7 separate regions of the Homo sapiens genome follow, and regions 2, 3, 4, 5, 6 and 7 are each reported to be linked to region 1. The links are microRNA targets in miRTarBase. Many come from high-throughput screens and were not tested one by one. Region 1 holds a microRNA gene; each other region holds the end of a gene's coding sequence.
The links. The annotated mature microRNA hsa-miR-33a-3p reads CAAUGUUUCCACAGUGCAUCAC and lies in region 1 at 2,677-2,698, shown strand. An mRNA with a match to its seed (bases 2 to 7 or 8) in the 3' UTR can be bound and repressed. Matches are read on the target gene's strand: a 7mer-m8 pairs with bases 2 to 8, a 7mer-A1 pairs with bases 2 to 7 and ends in A, and an 8mer does both.

Region 2: miRTarBase lists DCAF12 as a target of hsa-miR-33a-3p. Seed matches in the 3' UTR shown: 7mer-m8 at 1,059-1,065.
Region 3: the mRNA of TPBG is a reported target of hsa-miR-33a-3p. The part of its 3' UTR that is shown has no 7-base or 8-base seed match.
Region 4: miRTarBase lists EFR3B as a target of hsa-miR-33a-3p. Seed matches in the 3' UTR shown: 7mer-A1 at 943-949.
Region 5: miRTarBase lists YWHAE as a target of hsa-miR-33a-3p. Seed matches in the 3' UTR shown: 7mer-A1 at 2,557-2,563 and 7mer-m8 at 2,432-2,438.
Region 6: miRTarBase lists CLTA as a target of hsa-miR-33a-3p. The part of its 3' UTR that is shown has no 7-base or 8-base seed match.
Region 7: miRTarBase lists FYB1 as a target of hsa-miR-33a-3p. Seed matches in the 3' UTR shown: 7mer-m8 at 745-751.

What each region holds. Positions count from the first base shown.
Region 1 is chr22:41,898,313-41,902,390 of GRCh38, forward strand. MIR33A (microRNA 33a) reads left to right here and starts at 2,632; the gene lies at 2,632-2,700. It overlaps SREBF2 (sterol regulatory element binding transcription factor 2), which reads left to right. Exons shown (of 19, transcript NM_004599.4): 15 at 337-469; 16 at 2,018-2,186.
Region 2 is chr9:34,085,086-34,089,163 of GRCh38, reverse strand. It overlaps DCAF12 (DDB1 and CUL4 associated factor 12), which reads left to right. Exons shown (of 9, transcript NM_015397.4): 9 at 656-2,777. The coding sequence ends at 814. Among named protein-coding and RNA genes, the nearest start is that of UBAP2, 38 kb to the right of the region's middle.
Region 3 is chr6:82,365,659-82,369,736 of GRCh38, reverse strand. It overlaps TPBG (trophoblast glycoprotein), which reads right to left. Exons shown (of 2, transcript NM_001376922.1): 2 at 2,317-4,078. The coding sequence ends at 3,513. Among named protein-coding and RNA genes, the nearest start is that of TPBG, 3.9 kb to the right of the region's middle. RefSeq lists an enhancer at 3,506-4,078.
Region 4 is chr2:25,153,794-25,157,871 of GRCh38, reverse strand. EFR3B (EFR3 homolog B) reads right to left here. Exons shown (of 23, transcript NM_014971.2): 23 at 1-3,637. The coding sequence ends at 3,532. Among named protein-coding and RNA genes, the nearest start is that of POMC, 13 kb to the left of the region's middle.
Region 5 is chr17:1,342,020-1,346,019 of GRCh38, forward strand. YWHAE (tyrosine 3-monooxygenase/tryptophan 5-monooxygenase activation protein epsilon) reads right to left here. Exons shown (of 6, transcript NM_006761.5): 6 at 2,256-3,480. The coding sequence ends at 3,428. Among named protein-coding and RNA genes, the nearest start is that of YWHAE, 56 kb to the right of the region's middle.
Region 6 is chr9:36,211,015-36,215,092 of GRCh38, reverse strand. It overlaps CLTA (clathrin light chain A), which reads right to left. Exons shown (of 5, transcript NM_001833.4): 5 at 3,034-3,490. The coding sequence ends at 3,319. GNE (glucosamine (UDP-N-acetyl)-2-epimerase/N-acetylmannosamine kinase) reads left to right here. Exons shown (of 12, transcript NM_005476.7): 12 at 1-652. LOC124902151 (a long non-coding RNA gene) reads left to right here and starts at 1,082. Exons shown (of 2, transcript XR_007061474.1): 1 at 1,082-1,807.
Region 7 is chr5:39,103,701-39,107,778 of GRCh38, reverse strand. FYB1 (FYN binding protein 1) reads left to right here. Exons shown (of 19, transcript NM_001465.6): 19 at 314-2,527. The coding sequence ends at 336. Among named protein-coding and RNA genes, the nearest start is that of RICTOR, 31 kb to the right of the region's middle.

The DNA.
Region 1 (4,078 bases):
TCACCATGTTGGCCAGGCTGGTCTCAAACTCCTGACCTCAGGTGATCCACCTGCCTCAGCCTCCCAAAATGCTGGGATTACAGGCGTGAGCCACCGCGGCCAACCAGGAATGAACATTTTTAAGGCTCTTGATATATATTGCCAAACACTTTCCAAGATTGTGCTGGTCTATTCCCCTCCCCCAGAATCCTGGGTGTGGGAGCCCAGAGGCTGCTGGCCCGTTCCCAGCAGGCAAAGATGTTACCCATCTCCTAGGAAGGAAGTGTAGCAGCCTCTGAGCGCCACAGGTCTCGTTTCTGTGGGTGCTGGAGTGCGTTTGGTGCTGTTCTCCTCTAGGTCCAGACATCATCTGTCGGTGGTGGACGTCTGCAATCACTGTGGCCATCAGCTGGCTCCAGGGAGACGATGCAGCTGTGCGCTCTCATTTTACCAAAGTGGAACGCATCCCCAAGGCCCTGGAAGTGACAGAGTGCGTAACCCTCCTTGGCCACTCACTTGCTTCTCTCCAGGGGAATCTTGTTTGAGTTAGCAGGAGCAAACTGGACTGGGTGGGCGTGTTGGGGTGAAGGGTCAGGACTGCATGACAGGTGGGCGGCTAGAAAAGTCGGGGGTGAGGGCACCATGGAGAACTCAAGTTGGGCCAGCAGGTCCTCTGTGCAAGTGTCCTGCTCTGCACAACACGACAGTTGTCCCAGCAGCTGTCAGCACTGTGTCCGGGTCCTCCTCCCTGCAGCCTTCATGGCGCCACAGGCTGAAAAGAAGAGACGAGAGCAGTGTGGCCCCCAGCATCTTCAGAAGCTTTGTGGTGGAGGCAGGCACTGGTGGTTCACAATCAGTGCAGAGAGGCCACTGTTGCCCCCAAAACTCATGTGCACTGGAGCATCTTGCCCCTGTGTGCTAGCATTTTATCCACTTTCCTTCCAGCCACCTCCACCCCCACCATCAACCCTGGCAACTTTGTCCTGTAACTAAAATAGCCTTTAGCACATGGCATAACCGGAGAGCTTTTGACATTCCTCTTTGGAGATTCATGTCTGCGTCTTGGGGGCATTCGGCACTAGTGATGGGCAGCCCTGCCTGCTGACTCCCCGGCTGTTTCTAATTGGATCTGAGTATTCTAAGAGAAACTGTAAAATGCTCCAAGACAGAAAGGCCCCACGAGGTCCTATCCTTAGAGCCAAGGCTGTAGCATTTCCTATCAAGCAGACCCTTAACCGGCGCACAGGAAGGAGCTGAGAAGAGTGAGTATACACAGGCTTGAAGTCCTTTGTTCCCTGAAGTAGATGTGACACCCTAATTTCATTGAAGTAGCCCCATTTGTAAGCACTCTGACTAGGTAAGCACCCAGCCCGGTATAGCATTCCACCTGTATGTGTGTCTCCCCCAGTCGATGTGCCTGAGGACACTGAGACTCAGCAGGTAAGTTGTCCAAAGTCACCTCGCTCCAGAGCAGCAGAGCTTCCATGGACAGCCAAGACACCCCTGCAGGCACTGCTGCCTGCTGGATTCACTTACCCCTGGGTCCCTCTGCTTTTCAGGGACTAGGATGCTATGAGAACCCTCCCCCATCCCTAGCCTCCCCTTCCACTCCCAGTCTCCTCTACAGAAAGAAGCTAACTAAGTATCTCCAGAGAGTTTAATACCACATCTCTGGGGGGGTGGTCCCTTAAAGAACGGGTACAACACCTTATTGTGGCCACTTTATAGGTAAGGAAACTGAGGCACACGTTGGAATGACTATCTTGGGTGGCTTCTTAGCAGCAGACGTGATGGTGAAGCCTGTGTCTCTGACTTCCAGCATTGAATGAAGGTGCTAAAGGGTGGGGCGCTAACCCTAGCTCAGGGCTGGCATTTCAGATCTGGAGCTGGTGGCATGGTGCCATAGTGGCAGCATTGGAGTCAACAGATGCACATGTCATATCAGTGTGGGGCGTGGCAGTCACTGGCTTGGGCCCCTCTGCCTGTCACGCAGGTGACACATAGTGACCTGCCTCTCGACTCCCTGTCACTGCTGCAGGAGCCCCCTGGTGAAGGCCATCTTCCATGCCTGCAGAGCCATGCATGCCTCACTCCCTGGGAAAGCAGATGGGCAGCAGAGTTCCTTCTGCCATTGCGAGAGGGCCAGTGGCCACCTATGGAGCAGCCTCAACGTCAGTGGGGCCACCTCTGACCCTGCCCTCAACCACGTGAGTGGGAGCTGAGTTGGCCCCTGGGGGAGGTGCTCTGCACTGGTTTACGAGAACACTCCCACTCACCTCATGCTGACCCTGCGGGTGGGGCCATCCGAAAGACAGAGAAACCAGGACAGCAGCCCCCTTTCAAAAAAGTTACGGCTTATTGGCCTAGGTGGACTCCTTTTTCATCCCTTTTCAGCCTCTGAGGCAAGTGTGTTTCTACCTGCACCTTTCTTAGGCTCCCAGAGTCCCAGGTCCTGCTGGCCCATAGCCTCTGTAAGCCCAGGTGCACCCCAGCTGGCCAGGGGTTCACCTGCATTTGCTCCAGCGGTTTGCGTGACTTCCCAGGCCTCTGCAGGCAGCCTTGGAGTGGGTTCCTGCCCCCTCGGGCACACAAACAGAGCTGAAGACCACCCTGGGCACCTCCTTGGCTGGCCGCATACCTCCTGGCGGGCAGCTGTGGTGCATTGTAGTTGCATTGCATGTTCTGGTGGTACCCATGCAATGTTTCCACAGTGCATCACAGAGGCCTGCCTGGCCCTCGAGAGACTGCCCTGACTGAAGGCCCTATCAGGTGGGGGAGGGGATCCTGATAGAGGGCACTGCTGCCACTGTTGGGGCCCAAGTCACAGCCATCCCAGGAAACAGGAGGGCACCCAGCTGAAAGTGGAGCATCACCTGGTCTACGGGGAACATGTCCTTAGCTCCAGAGTGGGAGGGACCGGGAGAGTCCTGGAGATTCAGATTCTCAGCCACTCCCTGGGGCTTGGTCTTAGCTGGCTAGGCTAGTACTTCAAGCTAGATATTGTCAGTGGACCTGGGCACTGGGATGAACCCAGGACAGCGTGGCAGCCCCTACAGGGACAGGCAATGTGCAGAAAAGGCCCAAACTGGCTGGACGCGGTGGCTCACACCTGTAATCCCAGCACTTTGGGAAGCTGAGGTGGGCAGATCACCTGAGGTCAGGAGTTCGAGACCAGCCTGACCAACATGGTGAAACCCCGTTTGTACTAAAAATACAAAAATAAGCCAGGTGTGGTGGCATGTATCTGTAATCCCAGCTACTCAGGAGGCTGAGGCAGAAGAATCACTTGAACCCAGGAGGTAGAGGTTGCAGTGAGTCGAGATTGCACCACTGCACTCCAGCCTGGGCAACAGAGCGAGACTCCATCTTTAAAAAAAAGCTGGTGGGGGTGCCCAAATGCCCTGGGCTGCCAAGACCAAAGGCAGATGGTGAGCCACATTTCACCTTCTCTTTTGGGCTTTCCATTAGTCTCTTCCGTATTTGTCTTCATGAGAGAACCAAACAGTACAGGCTCAGTTTGGGGAATGAGAGGCTTGCAGCCACCCTTTGGACTGGGGTTCCTTGGTAGCAGCTCTGTGGTAGGAAAGTGAGCCTAGAAGACAACGCCATGCAGCCTGATGGCCCTCGGAGGGCAGAATCCAGACATAGGCCTGCTGCCTCCATGCCCACAGGTGCTTCTGCAGCATGCACAGCTTAGAAGTGCCAGGTTTTGAGGAGAGGGATCCTTTTCCACATCCCCTTGAAGCACACAACAGCCAGAAAACAGTGTAGGCAAGGATCAAGGCCTTGTGCAGGGACAGGGCAGGGTCTTCCTCAGGCCCAGTGTCCTGGGAAGGAGGAAAGCCAGGGCTGGGTGAGATGAGGCTCAGCCTGAGGGAGTTCATCAGGACCGGAGGGCTGCTTGCGGCCCATCTCAACAAGGACTCCTCACTGCTCGGTGTCGTGCAGGTGTGCCACTGCGAGCCGGGTGGGCAGCCCAGCCCCATAGGTCGTAGGCAGAGAGTATGCATGGCCCACATGCAGTACCTTCTCATATGATACAACAGCCCTGTGATGGTGCCATTTACATTTTTTTGAATGAAGAAACTGAGGCTCAGAG
Region 2 (4,078 bases), not on the chromosome of region 1:
TAAGGGACCTCCCACCACAGCTGTCAGTGAATTTTTTTTTTTTTTTTTTTTTTGAGACAGGGTCACTCTGTTGCCCAGGCTGGAGTGTAGTGGTGTGATCATAGCTTACTGTATGTAGCCTTGAACTCCTGGGCTCAAGCAGTCCTCCTGCCTCAGCCTCCCAAGTAGCTGGGACCACAGGCATATGCACTGTGCCCGGCTAATTTATTTTTTTTTAGTAGAGATGGGGTCTCGCCATGTTGCCCAGGCTGGTCTCAAACTCCTGGGCTCAAGTGATTCTCTCACCTTGGCCTCCTAAAATTCTGGGATTACAGCCATGAACCACTGCGCCCCACCTCCAGTGAATTATTCAAGTGTTTGGTTCTTCCTCCTGTGCCTAGCAGGTGGAGGGAAAACAGAACTTTGGTTCTAAGTCTCCTGAGAAGAACTGAGCCTTGTATAGCAATTCTTCAGCTGCTCCGTTCTTCTCTAACGTTTAGTTGGAAAAATGAGGCCCTGATTCCCATGAGAACCAACCAGCCAATCTCCTGACATGAGGTTGTACCTGTAGAACCCTGTTCCCTTAAGGAGACCAGAAAGCATTCCTGTCCCTTCCTCCCCCTTTTCCTGCCCCATGGCTAGAGGTGCTAATTGTAGTCTCTTTCTCTTCCCGTAGAATCATGATGAAACCTGGAGGAATTACTTTTCAGACATTGACTTCTTCCCCAATGCTGTTTACACCCACTGCTACGACTCGTCTGGAACGAAACTCTTTGTGGCAGGAGGTCCCCTCCCTTCAGGGCTCCATGGAAACTATGCTGGGCTCTGGAGTTAATGACAACTCCCCAAATGCAGAGATTTACACTAACTTCCATTCTCAGTTTCCTTGTTTCTTTTGATTTTTTTTTTCCTAATTGTGTGAGGCTCTTGTGTTTTAGTGGGAACACCAAAGTTTGCCTATAGTTTAGGCACTTAATAGGAAGAAGCTCTGTACAGAAATCTGAAAGTTGTTTTGCTTTTTGTTTTCCCCTTTGGTAATCAAAATTTTACTATCTTTTATTATTTCTGGCTTTTCAACCAAACATTGTTGCTAATCCCTATTTTTCTTTAAGTGACACACATTCTCCTGTCTCTGGCTTCTTCAGGCTGAAATGACATAGCTCACCCTTACTTCACTCTTGAGAGGTAGGGCTCCTTTATAATTACATGGTTGCTCTCAGACTTTCTGTGAAAGTTTGGGAGCTGTGTGTGTCTGTGTGTGTGTGAGAGAGAGATCTTGTCTGCGTGTGTGTGTGTGATCTTGTGTGCCTGTAGGTACTGTGTGTCACTGAAATTACCTGGAGTGAGGATTACTTGTAATTAAAATATTTATAAAAGAAACAACTTTATTCACAGAGTCCAGCTTTGGGACTAGTCTGTATCTTGTTTTTTAAGTCTAACAACACTGATAATAGGAAGTAAAAACAGAAAGGAAAAGAAATTACCACTGGGAAAATCTTTTTAGTTAGATTGTAGGCTTCCTGGGGCCTCCCATGCCAGGACTGCAAAGTGATCCAGCCCTACCTGTCTTCCCACCTGTGTGTCCCCCGTGTGGGAAGTTGGTGTCACTTCCCCTTCCCACCCTCACATCTGCTTAGCCAGTAGCCACACCCCTAAAACATCAGACTCACCATCCAGGTGCAGCTCCAGAGGCTACAAAAGGCTTCATGGGACTTGAATCCCCATCCTAGCTTCTCTCTCCTTCCCCTCAAGACCTGATCTGGTTTTAAGGGGCCTGGAGCTGGGAGTCTCAAGTCTGCTAAGATTCACATCCATAGCCCCCATGGCTTTGAGGAGAATCCTCTCTGCCATTCTTCCAATCTCCCCAGTGGGTTTTGCTATTATTTTCTAAATTGGGTTAAGTCTAAGAAGGTGGGGGTGAGCAGGGGGTTTATCTGTGTGTAGTGAGTGCTTCATGTGTGGAATATTCATTTTCTTACTGCAGTGGGACTTGGGGTTGAAGCCACCCCTCCTACTCTGTTGGCTTAGCCCTGAGATGGTGACAGGCTGGCCTGCAGTCAGCATCATTGTGCATGTGACAGCATCAATGTGATTAGTAATTTGTCTGTTCCTCCCTTGAACTGTCTGTTTAGTCTGAGGTTTTTAAACTTGCAGGCAGCTGACTGTGATGTCCACTTGTTCCCTGATTTTTACACATCATGTCAAAGATAACAGCTGTTCCCACCCACCAGTTCCTCTAAGCACATACTCTGCTTTTCTGTCAACATCCCATTTTGGGGAAAGGAAAAGTCATATTTATTCCTGCACCCCAGTTTTTTAACTTGTTCTCCCAGTTGTCCCCCTCTTCTCTGGGTGTAAGAAGGGAAATTGGAAAAAAAATTATATATATATTCTCCTTTTAATGGTGGGGGGCTACTGGAGAGGAGAGACAGCAAGTCCACCCTAACTTGTTACACAGCACATACCACAGGTTCTGGAATTCTCATCTTCGAACCTAGAGAAATAGGTGCTATAAACAGGGAATTAAGCAAAATGCTGGATGCTATAGATCTTTTAATTGTCTTAATTTTTTTTCTATTATTAAACTACAGGCTGTAGATTTCTTAGTTCTCACAGAACTTCTATCATTTTAAACTGACTTGTATATTTAAAAAAAAAATCTTCAGTAGGATGTTTTGTACTATTGCTAGACCCTCTTCTGTAATGGGTAATGCGTTTGATTGTTTGAGATTTTCTGTTTTTAAAAATGTAGCACTTGACTTTTTGCCAAGGAAAAAAATAAAAATTATTCCAGTGCACAATGGTGTGAGTGAGTATTGTGTAGCCAGGAGCCTGCCAAAAAGGCCCCACATGACTAGTTGGAAGGTTGGCTTGAGCTGTTGGGATTGCTTGTGGCAGAAGGGGAACACAAGCCATTACCTCCAGGTTAGAGGCAGGTCAAGTGCAGGCACAAATACTAAGACCTGCTTGCTCTGGGTCCCCAACTCTAGCCCAAGATGAGTTGCTCTGAGGTCCAGCTGAGGGTGGATATGCCCAGGGTACTGAAGTAGTGTGACGTTACTTCTGTTACATAAGTAAGGGTTGGTAATAGGCCCTGTCTGCTTGGATGGTGCCCTGAGAATGACGCTGAAAGTGCTTGCATAGTACTCTGGGAATAGGATATTAATTTTTGTTTTTTGTAGTTGGAACCATAGACCTTCACTGCCCTTTGTAAGGGGAAGACACAGTGACCACAGTGAGTGATGCTCTTCTAGAGCCTATTTGGAGCTGTAGCTGAGAGAAACTGCCAAATCATACCACCCTTCCTCACACAGTCATCTCTGGGAAACCCACCAGGGCTAGGCCGCAGAGCCTGGCAAGGCCGTCCCTATTCTTCTGCCACATGGTACTTGTTCTTTCCAGGGCAAGCTGGACACAGCTGCTCTATGCACCTGCCTTAGAGACTGACTGGTTCAGAACATGACACATGGGTTCCTATATGATCAAAGGCTGCAAGACAGGAAGGGGAGATGAGTAAGTTAAAGCAATTTGAGAGGGCTCCCCAGAGGAGACGAGTTACATTTGGAAAGGGCTGAAACTAGCCTTTCCCAAAATGAATTTAGAAGGTATTTGTAAAATCTTCATTGTCAGCCGGGTGCAGTGGCTCACACCTGTAATCCCAGCACTTTGGGAGGCCCAGGTGGGTGGATCACCTGAGGTCAGGAGTTTGAGACCAGCCCAGCCAACATGGTGAAACCCCATCTCTACCAAAAATACAAAAATTAGCTGGGCGTGTTGGCGGGTGCCTGTAATCCCAGCTATTGGGAGGCTGAGGCAGGAGAATTGCTTGTACCTGGGAGGCAGAGGTTGCAGTGAGCCGAGATTGTGCCACTACACTCCAGCCTGGGCAACAGAGTGAGACTCCATCTCCAAACAAAATATATTGTCAAATCATTTTTGGGAAATGCAGATTAGAACAAAAGCAGCTTCATTCCTTTACCATCAGGTTTTTTTATTTTTAAAAATTGGAAAGGAGAGCTTTATTTCTCAAAGGGTTGCAGTCTGCAGGGTGGCCATTCTGACAGTCTGGGAAGTACAGCCTCTGGCCAGAAGTCAGAAA
Region 3 (4,078 bases), not on the chromosome of region 1:
GGTCCTCAACAAGGTAAGCCCTGTTTTAGAACATCAGGTAAAAGGAAAAGAGTAAAACAGAATTCCTAAGCAAACAATCTCAGTTCATCTGGACCTTCTTTTTTACAGCCACTTTAATTAAAAAGACAAAAGACAAAGGTAAGTTATTTCTAATTAAATACTGAGATGAGCATAATCCACACTTACTGCCAATCAAGGTATTTCTAAAGGATTTATTATTTGTGATTTGCTCATTTATTTCAACCAGCCTTCCCCCCCAAGCTCCTACTCTTTTTCCTTTAAAAAATCCTATTCATTTAAAAACTCCTATTCAATGTGCTTCAAAGTCTCCTTATTTTGTTAGAAAAATCTGTCAGCTCCTGTACAAATTTGCCTTGTAGGTTACCATTGAATCACACCCATAGCAGCCAAACTGCTATTACAAAAACGAATGCTGCAAACTGAATGGTTACAATCAAAGGGGGCAGTTATAATTCAGGGCCAAATAGCTGTATTATCCTAAAATTTTTGCTACTTTAAATAGAAATTTATGGGATAGTTGAATAGCTTTCTAAATTAAGGGATATATCAAGTCCTTGAATTTCTAAGTATTTTTTCTAACTTTCTTCAAATGAAACTTGTAAAGGATAAATGAAGGGTGTTTTATGTTGAAAATTTTACGTTCAGTAATAAAGAGTATTACCAACTAAAATAAAATTTTAAAAATGGATACTTGCAGGTTTCTAGAGTCAACAATGCATTAATAGTAAGAACAGTATTTAAAACAAACAGACTTGTCTTATTTTTAAATAAAGTGATACTTTTATTTTTCCCATATTCCCTTATACTTATTGAATTTATATAGCCTCTATCTTCCAAGGAACTTAGAATGTTTTATAAGCTTATAGACTTAAGAATATTAGGGCTGCAAAACATTAATTAGTTGTCAAATAATAACAATTTTTTATCTTAAGAATAAGGTGTTCTTTTAATTGACTTTTTTATTTCCATATTTTGGAGAACAGGAAGGAGTGATGTGATGGAAAACAAAGCAGTAGCAATTGGAAAGTCCAAACAAGAGAATAAGTAGGGGGATGAAAAAGAAGCAATAAATTATAACTTCAAAGAAGCCATCTACCTAACAGGGAAAACTTGGCTTCACTTTATCAGATTCATCATTGCTTCAAAGAGTTGATGAGAAAAGCTAGACTAATGAATCTACTGCTTCCCTGGTTCTTAGATAAAGCTCCACTTTAAACTGTTAGATTATCATGTGATGAAGAAACAATTCTTCTCAATAGAGGCTCTATCAATATTATAATTTGTTTCCTACAATATCAGAAGACTTACTAAGTCCATCAACAGTTTACTAAGATAGTGGTCACTATTTTTGACAGATTAGTATCTCATTGTTCTTACCAAATAATGGCAACCAGACAGTTTAGGAATTTCTGATGAACACTTAAACTGTTTGATGGAATTTTAAGTGCCAAATATTTAGCTTTTTCTGAGGTAATTATAGGATCTGAAATATAACCCTTAAATAATAAATACTATATTTCACAAAACAAGCCTGATGGAATTTAAGGAATTACAGCTTTGTATTCTGACTATATATTCTAACCTATAAAAAGGAAGATTTACTTATTTTTAGCCCTACTTTGAAAATTTCTGAATTTAATTCAAAGAAGGAATCAGCAAAGATTTCTAGAACCTAAAATACTATCTGATCCTATTTTATTTATAAAAATATGAAAATGTAGATTTTATTTCAAACATAAAGCACTGAAGGACATAACCAGTTCAAAGGAAAAGCAAGCCCTAAGACTTACTGATGCAAGTTTACCTAATACTTTCAGTTAAGCAATAATGGCTACATTTAAATCACTTGATAAAAGAGCCTGAAGACTGATTAATGGAATTTACTTTTCAGATTAAATGACAGATAATAAACTGAAAAAATAATAAAAGCCTTGTATATTATGGATGTATCAATTAATGATTGCCTGTATTTACACCTAAATGTGATTTATTCTTCACAAAGGTGTATATACTTACATTATGAACAGCTTAGCTAAAATCAAAATATCCTCAAATTCTTAAACACTGAACTGAAGATAAGAACCTATAAATACTTGAGACACGTGTTTACAGATGTAGACATTTATCTGTGGTTATTTCCTCAAGTTCATATTCAACCATGTCAAGTCAACTTTTTAAACATATTAGCTGGGTCTCTGATAAACTAAAGAACATTTATGTTCCACTTTAAATGTTTTTTTGAAAATATCCTCAAGAAAATCTAAGTTTCAATTTACATTAAGACATTGAGAAATATTTTTTAAATTATATTTTATATCTTTTATTTCAGAATATTGTCTTTAAGACACTTTATCTTTATATTTATTTGCATTACATTTGTTTCAAATTCTGCTCTAAAAATCCACAGAACAATTTCAAACAGAGTTTTATTAAGTAAATACTATTTTTCTAGACCAACAATAACTTCATTAGCCTTGAAAAAGCCCCAAACTGGGAACTGTTTATTGTGCAGAACGCTTAGCTTTTACCAACTTCATTATGTTCTTACAAAACTGTTTCATAAATAGCATTAACTTTGGGACCATACAGTCACATGAATACTCAAACTCTCCATTTAAATACTAAAAGGATCCACCATTTCAAAACGATCTCCCAAGTCTATTTATATTAGACATTGCTACAGTTTGATTCTCAGCTATGTTAAGTAATAATTATCATCGGAACCAAGACCATTGAATACTCCTGCCCTTCATCCTTTTTTCAAAGCAAACTTGCACACACTGTAATTCTTTTAAGAATCTTTATTTTTTTTTTTTTTAACAATTCAGTCGGTTGGATCTCGATGCAGTTTATTAAAAAAAAATCAGTACATTTTCATATAAACTGCAATCAAAAAAGTAATTTACTTTGTCAAAGAAGTTATGAAGTTGCAAGTTATTTTTTGTAATATGCAGAACAGTAAAATGTAAGCATGCTCTTGGATGCAGGTGCTCCTGTGCACCATGGAGTTATTTTGAAGAGCCTGCTAACGTCTGCAGGCAGTTTATAGGATGCAATTATTTTCTCCACAACTTAGGTACATGAGAATAAAACTGATATTTATGAATAAAGTATTTTTCTCGAAAAAGTTGAGGCAGCTTTTGTTGAATGCTATCTGTGTGGGTACACTTGCTACACCTTGAACTGTACTGAGAGAGAGACAGACAGCAAGAAGCCCATGTTCATGCTGAAACCTGAAAAATCCCTCCATACGTGTTGAGGAGTTCCAAGAAAAAGAAGAGGGTAAAACACTATACACAACTGTTCATCGTCTTACATTAACAGAACACACCGAGAAACTTTACATAACAAGGAAGCAAATCCCCTTCACTGCTTTTAGTCAAAGTCCGTTGTATCTATAGTGGAGGATGAAAGTGGAGCAAGCCTAGTAGGGATAAAGCTTAAGTCTACATCTCATGCAGAGTTGTCCTTGGTCTGTCCTCTAATATTTCTCAGACATCCGAGTTAGAACTGAGGTTCGTTAATCTGGGGTCCGCATTGATTTCATATCTGTAATGATACCCTTCCATGTGATCCCTGCAGGCATCTCTGATGTTATGCATCCACTTTTTTATCCCCTTGCGGTTCAAATACAAAACCAGGAGGAAAATAGCGCCTATCAGGGCTAAAACAATACCCAGGAAGACATAAGAGGTTTGCAGGGATGGGGGAAGAATCGGGTCACAGTCCAGGTCAGCACTGTTGAGTTCCAAGAGGACCCGATTCCTCATTTTTTCCGGATATGCACAGGTGAGCCGGTCTTTGCCCTGCACTACCTCTGTTTCCTTGAGCCAGGTCACCATGTCTGCCATGTGGCAGTCGCAGACCCAGGGATTGTTGTCCAGGAAAACCCTAATGTGGGGTAGACCTTGCAACTCAGCCAGGGTGCCATTGTGAAGGACCTTGAGGGCATTGTCCTCCAGGTGGAGGCTTTCTAGATGTGTCAGGTTGCGGAAGGACACGTAGGTCAGGCTCACCAGCGAATTATTACTTAAGTCCAGGTGCCTGAGGCTGGGCA
Region 4 (4,078 bases), not on the chromosome of region 1:
GCTCAGGCTCCTTCTATAGTGAGGAGGCTGTTTAGGAGTCAAGAAACCACTGATTTCTACTTTTCAAAGAGAGAGGGAAATGGAAACAGGCACAAGGCGCTGGGGACTCCATGGCAAGGAAAACAGAGGGAGCCTCGGGACCACACTGATGCTTTCTGCCGATCTGCCTCTTATCCATTCACCTGACTCCACCAAATTAACAGTACTTCCAAATCTCAAATACATTCCTGCCTACTCAGTGCTGTCAGCAGAGTCCTGACCAATGCTAGCCCTTCCCCACACAGCTAGAGTCCTCGGGCTTTGGGAGCAGCCGGTCTCAATGGGCTTACTGACTCCTCTTCGCTCAAAATCACATCAGAGAAGGGTGGCAAAAAGGGGCACAATGCAATGCCACTAGCCTCCAGGGGCTTGGAAGGGCAGGACTCACTGATGCTAGACCAAGGGCCAGGGTACCTCCCTCCCCTCCAGATCCCATCAAACTGCTTTGCCTCTCTCCCAGGGCCTGTGCTGGGGTGAGGAGATTACCTACTATCACACTCACCTTCACCTTTCCGATTCTGGCCTATTTGGCCAGAATCCAGGTTCTACTCCATGTCAGCAGACAACCCAACACTCTACTGAGTGTAAGTTTAAACAAAACTGAGAAGAGGGCACTCAAAAAAAATGACCAGTTCTTCAAAAGAAGCACATTTTTGCTAAGCGGCAGTGATGGAAAGGAAAAGCTGCCTGGGACCGGTGGAGAGGAAACAGCAGAATCTATGCAGAATGGGAACCTGCACCTTTTCTGTCTCTCTATTCACAGGATGGGGATGAGGGGCAGAAACATCTGGGGATCTCAGGTTCTAATGCTGGCTCTGGAAAGATGCTCCAGGGAGGCGACTGCCAAGTCCCAGAACCAGGGCTCACAGGCAGTGCTCAGGATGAAGCTGCCACGGGGAACCCTAATGTTAAGTAGGCACAAGAAACAGTGGGTCTCTCATCCAAGCTGGGTGCAGGATAAAACCTGGGAGGAGCTAGTGAGGAAAGAACATGTTTGTGGCTCAAGATTTCAATTTTCTTTAAAGTTTCTTTCAGAGGTTAGTTGCTGTCAAGTTTGAGTTAATTTAAACTTGGTTTTTAAATATATAAATACTAAAGAGAAGTCTAAGTTCATGCTTGTAAAATTGGGTTGAGTATAAGCCAGAGGCCATAAAGCACAGCCAAAAAGCCTTGGGGGTGCAGGAGCCTCCATGCCTGGGCCCTGCCCTCACTCAGGCCATTCAGAAGCCACGTGCCAAGCAGGCGCAGTGGCTCACGCCTGTAATCCCAGCACTTTGAGAGGCTGAGGCGGGCGGATCACTTGAGATCAGGAGTTCCAGACCAGCCTGGCCAACACGGTGAAACCTCATGTCTACTAAAAACACAAAATTCGCCAGGCGTGGTGGTGCACGCCTGTAATCCCAGCTACTCAGGAGGCTGAGGCAGGAGAATCACTTGAACCCAGGAGGCGGAAGTCACAGTGAGTTGAGGTCACACCATTGTACTCCAGCCTGGGTGACAGAGCGAGACGGTGTCTCAAAAAAAAAAAAAAAAAAAAAAAAACAAGAAAAAGAAGCTGTGTGCCCACAGCAGAGATGGTGACCACAAGGAAGAGCTTCATTTGAAGTGCCAAAACTATGGGAATGAGGGTCAAATAGCCCCTTCCCCAAGACATTTATTGCACATATTAATGGGAAATGCTCGTGTTCAGTCCCTCCCCGATTCTGGAAAATACATCCACCTAACAATCAGGCTCTCCCTGCACATCCGTGCACACCACACGTGGGGCTATGAGCTGAGGCCGTCCTGAGAAGCCTGCCCTCCCCTGAGGAGAAACAGCCTGCTTCTGACTCCATGCCACACTGCCTGAAATTGTACCCTAAAAAGGGATTCTCAGCTACTCAGGAGGCTGAGGTGGGAGAATCACTTAAACTCAGGAGTTCGAGGCCAGCCTGGGCAACATAGTGAGACCCCCATCTCTAGAAAAAAAAAAAAATTAAAAACGGATTCCTTTGGATCAAGAAATCTACTCACCCTGCCTCCTTTGGAAAGCAGACTCCAGGGAGAGAACGTCTGACACTCACATCTTACTGTAGGTTATGTTGGCTCGGAGGAGTTATGGGAAATGTGACTAACGGAGAAGGAAAGGGCAATTTTGGACCACATGGCACTGCCATGGGAGGAGCCCCAGGTGAGGTTCTGTCAGTGGCACCCCGGGAGACACAAAGGCACCTGGAGGAGGGGCCGGGAAGGGGAATTGGCAAAGAAGGCAACAAACTGCCTCCTGGGTGGCTCTGCCCGGCTCCGCGTTAGCTCCTCTCTGCACATCCTCATTACACAGAGACACAGACGGCACACCAGGAAAACAGGAACCCAGAACCCAAAGGGGTCTCCATGGCTCCTCCCAAGCCACAAGCGTTGCCAGGTGGTGCTGATGTCCCAGACTTTGTCCAGAGAGTGAAGAAATCATTCCAATATTAGGTGTTAGATCCTTCTTTCTTCAAACGGAACATCCAAAAAGTTGGCTTCTGATATCCTTGAGCCCCAAAACACCACTCATCCCACCCTCCCCACTCTCCTACAACCCAGGTCAGGCTGGGAGCCTTTTCCATAGGAGGTGATGTGGGCAAATCTTGGGGACCCTGTAGTTCCCCTCCAAGATTATCTTGCTCTGCCTTTCCTCAACCCAGAAGCTCCAGGAACACCTTGGGACCCTCAGAAGAAAGACATCAAAGAGAGAGAACCCAACTCTGAAAAACGTCCAGCAGACAGGACTGTGGGAGGCCAACACAAGCTCCTTATGAACAAAGGAGGTGGGAAGCTGCTGCAGGGACCACACTCGCCCGCTGGGCCTGCTGATGCCACAGGCCCACCTCCTGCCAGCCCTGCATCCTGCTTCCTGCCCTTTGCTGTCCCCCGACCCCTCGTGATGTCTCCACCCCAGCTCCTGTTATAAGGGCTCAGCATTCATTAATAGTAGAAAGAAACATGAACAGACAACTGGGAGATGAGCAAGAGAGTGAGAGACACAGCAGGGACATGGGCGGGGAGCAGGGGGAGTGCTGGGGAGGAGAGAGCCATCCCCATCTCAGCTTCCTTCCCCAGGGGAGTAGAGTCCTTAGCTTCCTCTCACCAACCAAGTCTCCATCCAGCTCCGTCCTCTGGGGAGGACATGCCCTTCACTCAAAACACCAAGTAGGAGCTTCTCAGCCCCCTCCCCCCGGCTTCTCCTGAGAGACACCCCATGATTCTCTGCCCCTGGCTGACACAAGAGAAGACAAAGAGGGCACAGGTGAGATGCTGATTGGTGAGACCTCCCTCAGGGAAGACGAGGAGGAGGTAGGAGGGCCAAGAAGGACCAGAGAGTCTCCACCTTGGCTTAGCCTGGGAGGCGCTGCCATCTAAGGTGATGTTTTCTCAGAGATCACAGCCAGATCTCCATGTGGTCGGGGTGGGCGTGAGGTGAGCCCCTCCTCAGACCCCATCTCCTTGAGGAGCTCAGGCTCTTGGAATTCAGTATACACACAGATCGGGAAACTTCATTTCATAGACGGGGATGGAGTGGTTCTGCGGCTGACCGTAGGCTGCAGTGATGGTTCCTGATGGGCTTGGTGGGGGCCTAGGGGGCAGGAACACATGGGGAGAAAGGCATGAAAAGAGAATTTTAGGATCCCACCCTTGTGCAACCAAACAGAGTAGGTGACTTGGGTTTCTTTTTGCACAGGCACCAGAGACCCCTTCATTCCACAGGTTCCCAGGATTCCACGTTCTACTAGAATCTACAGCTTGGAGTCAAGCTTCCCTGCAGGCTCCGCAGTGACACTGCTGCTTTAGAAAGTGCCAGCCCGGAACACTAGGACTCTTGCGTCTTTCCAGGTTTCATTGAGGCAGGCTCTTTCCCTCTCTGGTCTCTATTTCCTTGTCTAGGGAGGGTTAGAGTTGGTGGCTGACTCCAGCCCAGGGGATAGAGATTACAGTGGTAGAAGGAGGTGGGGAGGAGAGAAGAGAAGACAGGGGTGAGAGGACTCAGGATGAGGAACCCCAATACTGGGCCACGGAG
Region 5 (4,000 bases), not on the chromosome of region 1:
TCGGCCTCCCAAAGTGCTGGGATTACAGGCGTGAGCCACCGCGCCCGGCCAATGTTAGCTAAATATTAACAGTATCTATTACAATCCTACGAACTCAAAGAAACAGGATAAAACAACACAGGGCTTGGTTTTCCTGATCCAGGTTGGATCTGGGAGCATTCCCATTTCCTCTCACAGTGCTCACAAAGGCTTCCTTTAATGACACACTCTAGGATTTCACCAGTTTTCCATGAACTATTACTTGTTACAATTTTCAAAAGAACACAGGGGTCACACCTTTATCCCGCTTTTTCAGCAAGCCTCACTCTCCTCTATTGTCCTAGGATCAGGAAGCAGCTAATTTGGGGTCTCATTTATAAGGCTCAAGGCATTTGTCTGGGACAGAAGCCAATTAATGTCTCCATTTATCCCACCAGTTTCCCCTTTCAGTGATGGAAGTTCATCCCCATCTTCCTATAGGACCGAAATTTAACTTTGCAGACGTGCTGTTCTGAGGACCCACCCGGAACAGAGCATGTACACAAACCCACTTACTGTCGCTTCTAACATTGTAGGAAGCCTTTGGGTTTTCCAAGGCAGCAAAGTACTGAGATTTGTAATTAAAAACACATATTAGCTACATTCAAGTTGTAACTAACTAAAAACTTCTACTTAAGTCGACTGATCCTCAAAGTAAGACTCAAATCAAAACCAGAAAAGTTTGGGGGCAATTCCCTTTCCAGCCCACAAATACAGGAACTGGGAGTGACACCGTCCTCACAGGGCTACGGCACCTTTCTGCAGCTTCCCTGGCTCCCTTTCAATTTTTTTTTTTTTTTTTTTTTTTTGAGACGGAGTTCTGCTCTTATTGCCCAGATTAGAGTGCAGTGGCGCGATCTTGGCTCACTGCAAGCTCCGCCTTCCAGTTTCCAGCGATTGTCCTGCCTCAGGCCTCCCAAGTCACTGGATGTTAATTACACCCAGCAAGGTCGCCCGCCACCACGCCTGGCTAATTTTTTTGTATTTTTAGTAGAGACAGGGTTTCCCCATGTTGTCCAGGCTGGTCTCTTAACTGCTGACCTCGTGATCCACCCACCACGGCCTCCGAAAGTGCTGGGATTACAGGCGTGAGCCACCGCACCCGGCCTTTCAATTTTTGATAAGGATCTTTCCTTTTTTTTTTTTTTGAGACAGTCTCACTCTGTCGCCCAGGCTGGAGTGCAGTAGCGTGATCTCGGCTCACTGCAACCTCTGCCTCCCGGGTTCAAGCGATTCTCCTGCCTCAGCCTCCCGAGTAGCTGGGAGTACAGGCGTGCGCCACCATGCCTGGCTAATTTTTTGTACTTTTAGTAGAGACGGAGTTTCACCGTGTTAGCCAGGATGGTCTCAATCTCCTGACCTCGTGATCCGCCCGCCTCGGCCTCTCAAATTGCAGGGATTACAGGTGTGAGCCACCGCACCCAGCCGAGTGGTTTCTTTAAACTCTGCAACAGACTTGACGAATTCCTTGGATTTTGACCTTTAAGTGTAGCAGGTGTGCTGGAAACAGAGCAAATCAACTTGAAAGCTTCTTGGAGGTTGCTCCAAACAGCAGCATATAATTATATTCAATGGTCTCCCTATCTCTCGGAAAAGCAACTCACAAAAACATGTTTATTCTCATTGCCAGCACTCACTAAACGCTACTAGGATATCGCTGATCTGTTCATTTCCTAAATCTCTGCTACTAACACTTTAAACCGAGAGTAAACTTGCAGTCTCAACATCCAATTTTAGAAGACAAGTGTGACGAGGAAGGATTTATCAACTGAAAAATGTTTACTGACACAGGGAATCTAGAAATGTACCTTCCAGATACATACAAATATTTAAGCAAAAACTGTTCCAAGGGTATTTCCTGCAGCACCTGCCCAAAAGGAGCAAACTGGTCTTAACAAAATCAGGTGTACATCAATGTTACGCAGTCAGAATGAGACACATCTGAATGCCTAACATAAAAAGATCTACAGTAACTAGGTATCTATACACATTGATGTATAAACTGTTTATGGAAAGAAGCTTCTTATACAGTGTTTCTGGAAAGGGAGACTGCTATCCTGCTGTCTATAATGTGTGTATGGATTACTAAGAAAGGATTGAGTAATTCTCCACTACTGCCACTAGCCTCTGGAGGAAGAGGGCACACAGTTTTTACCTCTAAGAATTATTATAAGACATTCAGCCTTATTTGGTTGTATGAAATACTATGCTAGAAAATGATCCATAATTACACCTTGTACTACTCATGTTGTACTTTAATGATTAAAATAAATACCATGTTGCTGCCTGGTCTGGAGGACAAGACACACCATCAACTGACTCAGTGTTCTTCACAACCAGACTACAGGCAATTTTTTTCCAAAACATACATCTTTGGGAAGCAAACAAATTATTTATGGAAGAAAAAAGGAGGAATGTTTCACATTCAGGCAAACATAATACTGTCAGTGTGTTTGGACTAGAGATTTTATTTTAGAAGTATAAAGGATGGAGGCGCGATATTTGGCATTTTTAATTTAGGTTTGTTTTATTTAAGTTTAATGTTAATTCCATGCTGTGTTTCAGTAAGAACAATACAGATTCTGTATCTGTGGCTCCAGTCAGATATCCAGTAGTACAAATTAGCTTCAAGTTACACATACTGAACAAAAGAGGTTGAGCGAGCGAAGGAGGGGAGGAGTGAGGGGAAGGAGGTAGGGGGAGGGGGAAGGAGAAGAAACAAAAGAATTGAACAGGCATGCAGGCTTTTCCATACCACCTTCAACGCTAACCTGCTTCAGTGGGAGAGTAAAGTAGGCAAGAATGAGCAGCCACGGATTGTTGAACTGTTACCAGCACCATGCTTTTCAGCAACATTTCAGCGGAGTTGGAAACATTTTTTACAGCAAAACCATTACAACGAAGTCCCTCCCCAAACCACCTTTAACCATCTCAAGCTAACACCCAATTACTTGCAAACACTGGTATAAAACACAGTTTAAACAATTAGAAAAATGAAAACTGATACCACTTATGCCTCTATAGTGTGATTAACCTCTCTCTTAGATGCTTGCATCACCTATAAGTCTAATGGCTTTCAAATGTAATTTCCATTTGCTAATGGTGATCTTGCCACATCTGGCACGGAGACGACACAGTAATGCTGAAAAAGCCTCTATGTAGTCCTGTTAGTGTCTTAAAGAACCTAAAAGCTGGGACCAGTAAAATCCACAGAAATTCACTCTTGCCTTTAAGAACTTTTGAAAACTGTTTAAAAAAAAAAAAAAAAAACCAACAGGGCAGGAACCTAAATTCTGAGACCAAATGTAAAAGTCAGATTTGGTGGTTCTCAGTGACAATGGGGAGTTTCCAAAGGGTGGGATGGGGAGGAGGGGGTGGTCAGAGATGGTTTCTCTTGTTGGCTTATGTCTCACTGATTTTCGTCTTCCACGTCCTGCAGCGCTTCTTTATTCTGCTCTTCACCTGTTAAAAAAGAAAAAAAGTCAATTATTTCGTATTGACTACATTAGGCTATGGCAGCCACAAACAAAGGTGTCATTCCAAGCATAAAGACTCTTCTACTTGCTACAATTGGTATTAAACGCAGGCAAAGGACTTCTATCATCCTTGACACCTGAGATGCCTAAGCCAAGAAGGGATTATGGTCCTGAAAGTATTTATTGGTCAACAGAATGAAAAAAACTGATGCGCAGTACAACTCAATGTTTTTACGCTAAATAAGCTCTTGACGTAGACAGCCAAGGAAACCATCTTACTAAAATGACATTCAAGCTTTCACATAAATCTTGGGTCAAAATACTCTTTCTCAATAACCTCACCTCTTCAAGAATCAAGAGTATTTTGCAAACTTTTTGCAAAATCTAATTTACCCACAAGCTAATTATCAGAAATGCTTCAAAATAGTTAACTGAGCAATAAACTGTTGCCAAGAAGTTCTATCGTATTTTATTGTGGGGTTCTGCTGTTATAAATATTTCAGCTT
Region 6 (4,078 bases), not on the chromosome of region 1:
TCTGCCTCCCAAAGTGCTGGGATTACAGGTGTAAGCCATCACACCTGGCCCTAGTGACAGGTTTTTATGGGTACTTTTAGATGATCTAAGAAATCATGTGCATATATCTTTCAGATTTCTATTTTGGGAAAATGAAGGTTTCTACAACATATTGTTTCAGTGTTCAAATAAACTGAAGGACTCAACATTACATTTGAACTATATCCTTCCTAGTGGGTTAGTGTGAAAAAGAGTTTGGCTGATTCCTAAAACTCTGCCAGCCCTGCAGTAATCTCCAGGGCCTGGTTATTGTTCAGACATTCCATGGTGATTCCTGGGAAGGAAGCTTGGCTGCTCAGTTTCTGAGTCTGGGGTGAGATAATGTTCTGGGAAGGGACATCTGTTCTTTGGTGTAATCTCTCATGGTGAAATCTGCTCTGTACATCAGACAATTGCATTGCTACCAAGTTTCATACCAAATATTTGAAAGGATGGTATTGAATCTAAAACCAAATATTAGTTTTTATTAAACTCATGGGAAGGCTAATATATTCCAACGTAAATTATTACATATGGTTAAGTAATTGCATGTTAATTTATTTTAATGTAAATATTTTTGTTACTGTTCTGAGCCAAATTCTAAAGAAAAAATAAATACATTTCCTTGTTGAAATCCTGTTGTATTTTGTTTTGTTCGTAACTCATTAGCCAAAAGCATTTTCCTTCCCAGAAGAGATTTAATTGTTGCACTGCTTACGTTTTGAAGGTTATATAACTTCCTTAAGGCCTCTAATATCATTGCTTTCTTAACCAAAAAAAGTCTATTAATAGAAAGCATGGCTGGGCATGGTGCCTCATGCCTGTAATCCCAGCACTTTGGGAGGCTGAGGCAGAAAGATTGCTTGAACCCTAGAGTTCGAGACCAGCCTGGGCAACATGCCAAAACCCCATCTCTACAAAACAATACAAAAAAAATTAGCCAGGCATGGTGCAGTCTCAGCTACTCAGGAGGCTGAGGTGGGAGGATCACCTGAGCCCGGGAAGTGGAGGCTGCAGTAAGTTAGTTATGATCATGCCATTGCACTCTAGCCTGGGCGACACAGTGAGACCCTGTCTCAAAAACAACAAAAACAAAACATTGCTATATATAACATTGAAAATTTGGCATAAAAAAGCAAAGTAGCCCCCAAGAAAGAGGTTTGAAACTAAGTGTTAAGCATTTACTGAGTCCCTAGACCCACTCCCTCTTTTTATGAGGCCCTATGTGGGTCTCATACAGGCATTAGAAACAATCCCAAATTACTATTGCTGTGTAACCTCAAAACTGAAGAGCTTAAAACAACAGTAATTGTTTCACGTCGTGGTTTCTGTGGGTCAGGATTTGGGAAAGGCTCAAACTTGACAGTTGTAGCTCAAGAGTATCCTGCACTTGTAGTTGTCAGCTGGAATAGCACGAGGCTGGCTGGCCAGGCATCTCCCAATGTGTGTGGTTACAGGGTCTCTCAGGTGGCCTCTCTGTGGGCTAGTTTGGGCTTCCTCACCACATGGGTAGCTTCAAAGGTAGAATTTTTTATGAGGCGGCTCAGGGCCACCAGCTAGTTGCTCCAACAAATCAACCATCAGCAGCACTGCCTTTTATGACCTAGCCTTGGAAGTCATCCCAGCATCACTTTTGTCACATTATTCAGTCACCTCTCCATCTAGAGAATGTCACAGATTTTGTTGACATTTAAAATTGCCACCTCCCACCTCAAGAAGCCCAGCTGGTGTGGGAGGCAAGACTGGTCCAGACGATGGCACCAAGACTACCAAAAATAAGCTGCCCCAGGTAGATGGCCATGGGAGTTCAGGGGAAGGGGGGTGGCCTTTGAACTAGTTCTTAAATTGGATTTTGACATTTGGAATGGGATTAGCAGGTCCCGTAGGAACAAAAGTCTGGGAACAATGATTGCTTGATTGTAATAAGATTTGACTAAAGGGGGAGGAATAAGCAGAGGCCAGAAATGTGGGCCAGGTCAAGGAAAGCCCAACTAAGCTTGGAAACGGGGAGGTAGCAGGAAAAGTAATGAAAGCTCCTTCCAGCCAAAAATAATTAACATTGAAGAGATAGTGGCCTTTCCTTCTTGGCAATGGCAACACCTAACCCCCATCCTGAGCATAGTATTACAGTTTACCTCAATCTCCAGTTTGGAAGTACCAGGTAGTTATAAGCAGATTACTGAAATATAGCTTTAATAATTGCTTGGAACATCACCTAAAACGAGCCAGGTACTATGCCAGGTTCTGAAGACAGATAATGAACTTACTGGTGTCTGAACAAAGCACGGGCTCCTGGAAACACCTGTGGTAGATCAGCATGGTCCAGTGCAGCTTTCTGCGACCATGGACATGTTCTATAACCTGTGCTATCCGAGTGCCACCTAACCACATATGGCTACTGAGCACATGAATTGTGACTAGGACTAGAAATGTATTTTAAATTCATTTAAATAGCCACATGGGCCTGGTGAATACTGCACTGGACAGCACAGGTCTAGATGAAGGATTTTACAAGAGAAATATGAACCAAGTGCTTGGGATGGCACAGAACCCAACATGTGCTACAGGACTCAACAGTAATGGGGCTAGCCACACATGAATGCCGTCCTGACTCAGGCTTACTGGCCGGATCCAAAGGAGTCAAGGTCTTACTAGAGTCTACGTGCCCCACAGACTCCTGCCGAAATATACTATCCAAGACCCTAAACTGAGGGACACTGGCAAGCAAGAGCCCATCTGGGAGAAAACGACTAGGTTGGTGAGAGGATTCACAGCTGTGTCTTAGGTAGATAATGAGGGGGTTAACCTTCAGCCACTAAACTCCCTTCTCAAATGAAAATGTCCACAGGATCCCACTCTAGATCCCGGTGCTATCTTAGTTCAAGGCAGGGCTGTGTGCCCAGTGGCTGTGCCTCCTCAGCCCTAGAAATTTCAAGGAAATTCCTCCTGGAAATTCCTTCCAACCTCACTCCAAACTACAACACATCTTGAGGTCAATAAAGAAGCTTCACATAATACAGTTTGAAACAGAAATTTATTCTCAGAATAATGCACAGAAGCACAGGTTGAGGCTACTCTTGGGAAGCTTCCCTCCCCTTCCTCTTCCTCCTCTCCCTCCTCTCTGAATGCCAGGGAGAACACAGTTGAAGGAAGGAAACATGCAATCACAAACAATGAACAACTCTAAAGACAAAAAGGTTTGGTCCAAAAGAACTCAACATAATTAATCCAATGACTGTGAAGAGCTTCACTGAGTAGGATTAAGATATTGCAGATGTAGTGTTTCCACAGGGTGGCTCTTCAGTGCACCAGCGGGGCCTGCTTGAGGGAGATGAGGACTGAGCGCATGCGGGAGACATCTTTGGCCTGCTTGCTAGACTTGGGGTTAAAGTCACACAGCCGGGCCACCCGTTCCCACTCAGTGCCTGGGGACGACTCGTCAATGTCATTTACAAAGGCTTCTTCTGCTGCCCTGGAAGCAACAACAAAATATGTTGGTTTATGCAGAACCCCCTTTGAGCAACCTGGTGGCTGCCTTGCTACACAAGCAACTGCCTATTTGTCCCTTTCTTAATGACATTCTGGCTTTCCCAAGATAACAGCCCCTGGCCCAGGTCAGACTCAGGTAGACACGTAGCTGGCTCTCCTAGGCACAGGGTGCCCAGACCGCTGTGTAAAATGTTGGAATACAGGTGTTTGGTTCAAGGCTCACTATGTCTCTCTGTCTGTCTCTGCTCCTGTGGAGCATTAATAAAACAAGTCCTTAGCCAGCTACACACTGCTTTTATTAATAAGAACAAAGCAGCAGGCTGATCAAGAACTTGAGTAGTTTATGCTGGGCTGTACTGAATTTCAAGGAAATTTAGAGACTTCTAAAAAGCCCACAGATCATTGCACAATAGCCTCTAGATTTATTCCTAAGGCTGGAGAGAAACGGGGCAGATCAAAAGGAATTCAAGACAAAGCTCCCATGCTAGCAAGCACTAGAGACTAAAGCCATTCTGGAAGGGGGTTTGTTAGGACATTCTCCAGTTCAGCCAAAAGTTTGCCATTTTCCCTC
Region 7 (4,078 bases), not on the chromosome of region 1:
GTCTTGCTCTTTAATATCTTCAACCTCGTTCAGAGTGACTACCAAAAAGTATATGACTAAGTGCCACATAAAATAATCTTGAGTCTCATTTTAATAGAGAATAAATCTGTCCAGAAATTTTGTTGAATTATATACTAAATAATAAAAGTTAAATATATGATCTTCCATTTAACTCATTTTTTATAAAGTGAGCCAGTTCTATTTTTTTTAATCCTTAACCAGGAGAGTATGAATCACCCACATTTCCAAACTTGGAATACTTAGAGAATATGTTTTTAATAACTATATTTAAATTTGTATTTTTTCCTTTCAGGCTGCATCTATGACAATGACTAGCACTCAACTTTGGTCATTCTGCTGTGTTCATTAGGTGCCAATGTGAAGTCTGGATTTTAATTGGCATGTTATTGGGTATCAAGAAAATTAATGCACAAAACCACTTATTATCATTTGTTATGAAATCCCAATTATCTTTACAAAGTGTTTAAAGTTTGAACATAGAAAATAATCTCTCTGCTTAATTGTTAACTCAGAAGACTACATTAGTGAGATGTAAGAATTATTAAATATTCCATTTCCGCTTTGGCTACAATTATGAAGAAGTTGAAGGTACTTCTTTTAGACCACCAGTAAATAATCCTCCTTCAAAAAATAAAAATAAAAGAAAAAGGAAAATCATTCAGGAAGAAATGACCTGTCTAAAAAAACCTAAGGAAGAATAATAATATAAGAAAGGAAATTTAAAAACATTCCACAAGAAGAAAAATTATTGTTTATACTTCTACTTATGGTTATATCTTATATTCTCTATTCAAGTGACCTGTCTTTTAAAAAGGCAGTGCTGTCTTACCTCTTGCTAGTGGGTTAAATGTTTTCAAAAATTATAGCAGTAGTAGAAGTTTTGTATAAAATTTGTCCTTATTTGTTAATTGTATATAAATGTTAATTATTTGATACGAATGTTATGCATTTAGTATGCACATTGAAGTCTAAACTGTAGAAGAGTCTAAAACAAGTTCTCTTTTTGCAGATTCACATACTAATGGTTTAATTCTGTGCTCTGTTTAAAGTACTATTATAACTAGAGTAGATCTGAATGAGGATAACCCTAAAATCATGAGGAATGGAAGAATGGACCTTGAAACTACCTAGGCTTTTATGCATGGCACCTCTTTATAATGAAGACACTTTTTAAAGTTTTTGTTTTTGTTTCAATTACCGCTAGATTTTTTTTTCTCTTTTTTTAAAATCCATTTTACTGGAAAGTTGGCCAGCAGAGGGAGTAGAAATTATTAAAATTCTAGTGTTTGGATTGGGCCCTTCTCTAACAGTACATACTCATTCCCAAAGCAATCCAAAAACAAAATGTGAACCATTTGGGTTTCAAATGTTAAGAACACTAAATAGCATGATTTAAAAAATGAAAAATGCTAACACCCAAGAAAAGAAGATATTAAGTGCTTTTTAACAACTCCTAGAGTACAAAATGAGTACATCATAATGCTGGCTCTTCTACTAATGAACCATCGAGTGATATTGAATAAATTATTTATCTTCTCAGTTTCCTTATCTGTAAATTACAATATTAGACTAAGTAAGTTTTTCCAACTCTTCACTACCAATTACCTTAGGCTTTTATAATGCTCCGCCTACTTCAGTCCCATGTTTCAGAAGCTTTTGTCTATTTTTTAAACTCATTGATTAAATAATGATTAATGCATTCTCCACATTTTAATATTGCAAAGGCCCATTGGAGTTTCTGAAGTGGCTCCACAGAATTGAAATAATTTCAAATAACTGTAAAGGAACTGAAAATCTTCACAGAGATGAAGTGGGGTTTCCATTAGGTGCTTTGAAATTTGATAACAAATCATCAACTTCCACTGGTCAATATATAGATTTTGGGTGTCTGAGGCCCCAAGATTAGATGCCACTAATCTCCAAAGATTCCCTCCAATTATGAAATATTTTAATGTCTACTTTTAGAGAGCACTAGCCAGTATATGACCATGTGATTAATTTCTTTTCACACTAGATAAAATTACCTGGTTCAAAAGTGGTTTTTGTTTATTAAATTTGGTAATAAATATATATAATACACAGACAGGATAGTTTTTATGCTGAAGTTTTTGGCCAGCTTTAGTTTGAGGACTCCTTGATAAGCTTGCTAAACTTTCAGAGTGCCCTGAGACACTTCCAGCCATCCCTCCTCCTGCCTTCATTGGGGCAGACTTGCATTGCAGTCTGACAGTAATTTTTTTTCTGATTGAGAATTATGTAAATTCAGTACAATGTCAGTTTTTAAAAGTCAAAGTTAGATCAAGAGAATATTTCAGAGTTTTGGTTTACACATCAAGAAACAGACACACATACCTAGGAAAGATTTACACAATAGATAATCATCTTAATGTGAAAGATATTTGAAGTATTAATTTTAATATATTAAATATGATTTCTGTTATAGTCTTCTGTATGGAATTTTGTCACTTAAGATGAGCTGCAAATAAATAATACCTTCAATGGATAACCTTGCCTCCTACTTCATTAAAAAAATTGAGGCTAGCCAGATGCGGTGCCTCACATCTGTAATCCTAGCACTTTGTGTGGCCGAGGAGGGCACATTTCATGAGCCCAGGGGTTCCAGACCATCCTGGGCAACAAGGTAAAACCCTGTCTCTACAATAAATACAAATAATTAGCTGGGTGTGGGGGCACATGCCTGTAGTTTCAGCTACTTAGGAGGCTGTGGTGGGAGGATCACTGGAGCCTGAGAGGTCGAGGCTGCAGTAAGCCATGATTGTGCCACTGTCTCAAAAAAATTTACCCTGTCTCAAAAAAAAGAAATAAATATATTTTTTTAATATTGAGGCCATCAGGCTTCCTCTCTCTTAACTTGATCCTACATCTACAAAACAGTCTTTCTCTGCATCCAACCTTGACTCTAGCTTCAGCCTCAGAAGACGGGATATCTCCTCTTCAAGACCAAACCTTCTACCAAGACTCCTAATACTTTGACTCCTATTTTGTGTCAGAAATTAAGATAACTAAACGCAATTCCTTTCAATTCCCTACAACCTTTGACCTTAACCCATATCCAGACACTGTCCCAGAGAATAAGATGTCATGCCTTAAATTCAAAGCCATAACCTTTGGATCCCATTTCTTCCTGCCTTTTCTGGAGTGTTTGTCTTTTACAATTCATTCTTTCCCATTCTCCTTCTCCTTTTCTGCCTCCCTCTGGCTATCCCTCTTCTTTATCTTTAAGTTCTCCCACTGTGCAGATTCCTTTCTCTAGGCTTACAAACACTGAAATCTTTCCCATCTAAAAAGCAACATGAAACTTTGCCTTGGGCCCAAAAACCTGTCCAGCTACAGCCCGTTTGGATTTTTTTCCCCTCATTTCATTGTCTTAAAATGGCAGGGTATATGTGGCAGCCAGGAGAATGTGCCTCAAAGACTTCCAACTATGGGGCATTTAATTGTCCAAAAGTCCCCAGCTGCTGCATTCTGAAATCCATCACAATGTTTGTGCCAAGATCAGGCTGTTCTAGCTAATGACTGAGTGTTGCAGGGATACTGAGGCAGGCCTATTCCTGAAAGACACAGAACTCCTCACATGGCCAACTTCAGTTTGAGGACTCCCTGACAAGCTTGCTAAACCTGCAGAGTGCTCTGAGACACTTCCAACCATCCTCCCTCCTGCCTTTATTGGTATAGACTTGCATAGCAGTCTGTCAGCTCCTCCAGCCTTCTCCAGCTCCCTTCCCATTTTCTCTCACACATGTATTCTTCCCCACCCACACATGTATTCCTCCCTTCCCATTTTCACTCCCTCTTGGTGTCTGCTTTCCAGAGAATCCAAACTGAACACAGGACATCTGAAGAGTTTGTAAAAATACACATTTTTTTTTTCTCTGCAGATCAACAAATAAAAATCTCTAGGGAAGAAACTTTGGAGTTCATTTTTCCTTAACTCTAAATATGAGTTTAATGCTCAGCCACGTTTGAGAATCTCCCATCCCTATTCATCCTTTGCCATATGCTCAGGGTATATTCAATCGTCAACTTACTGCAACTC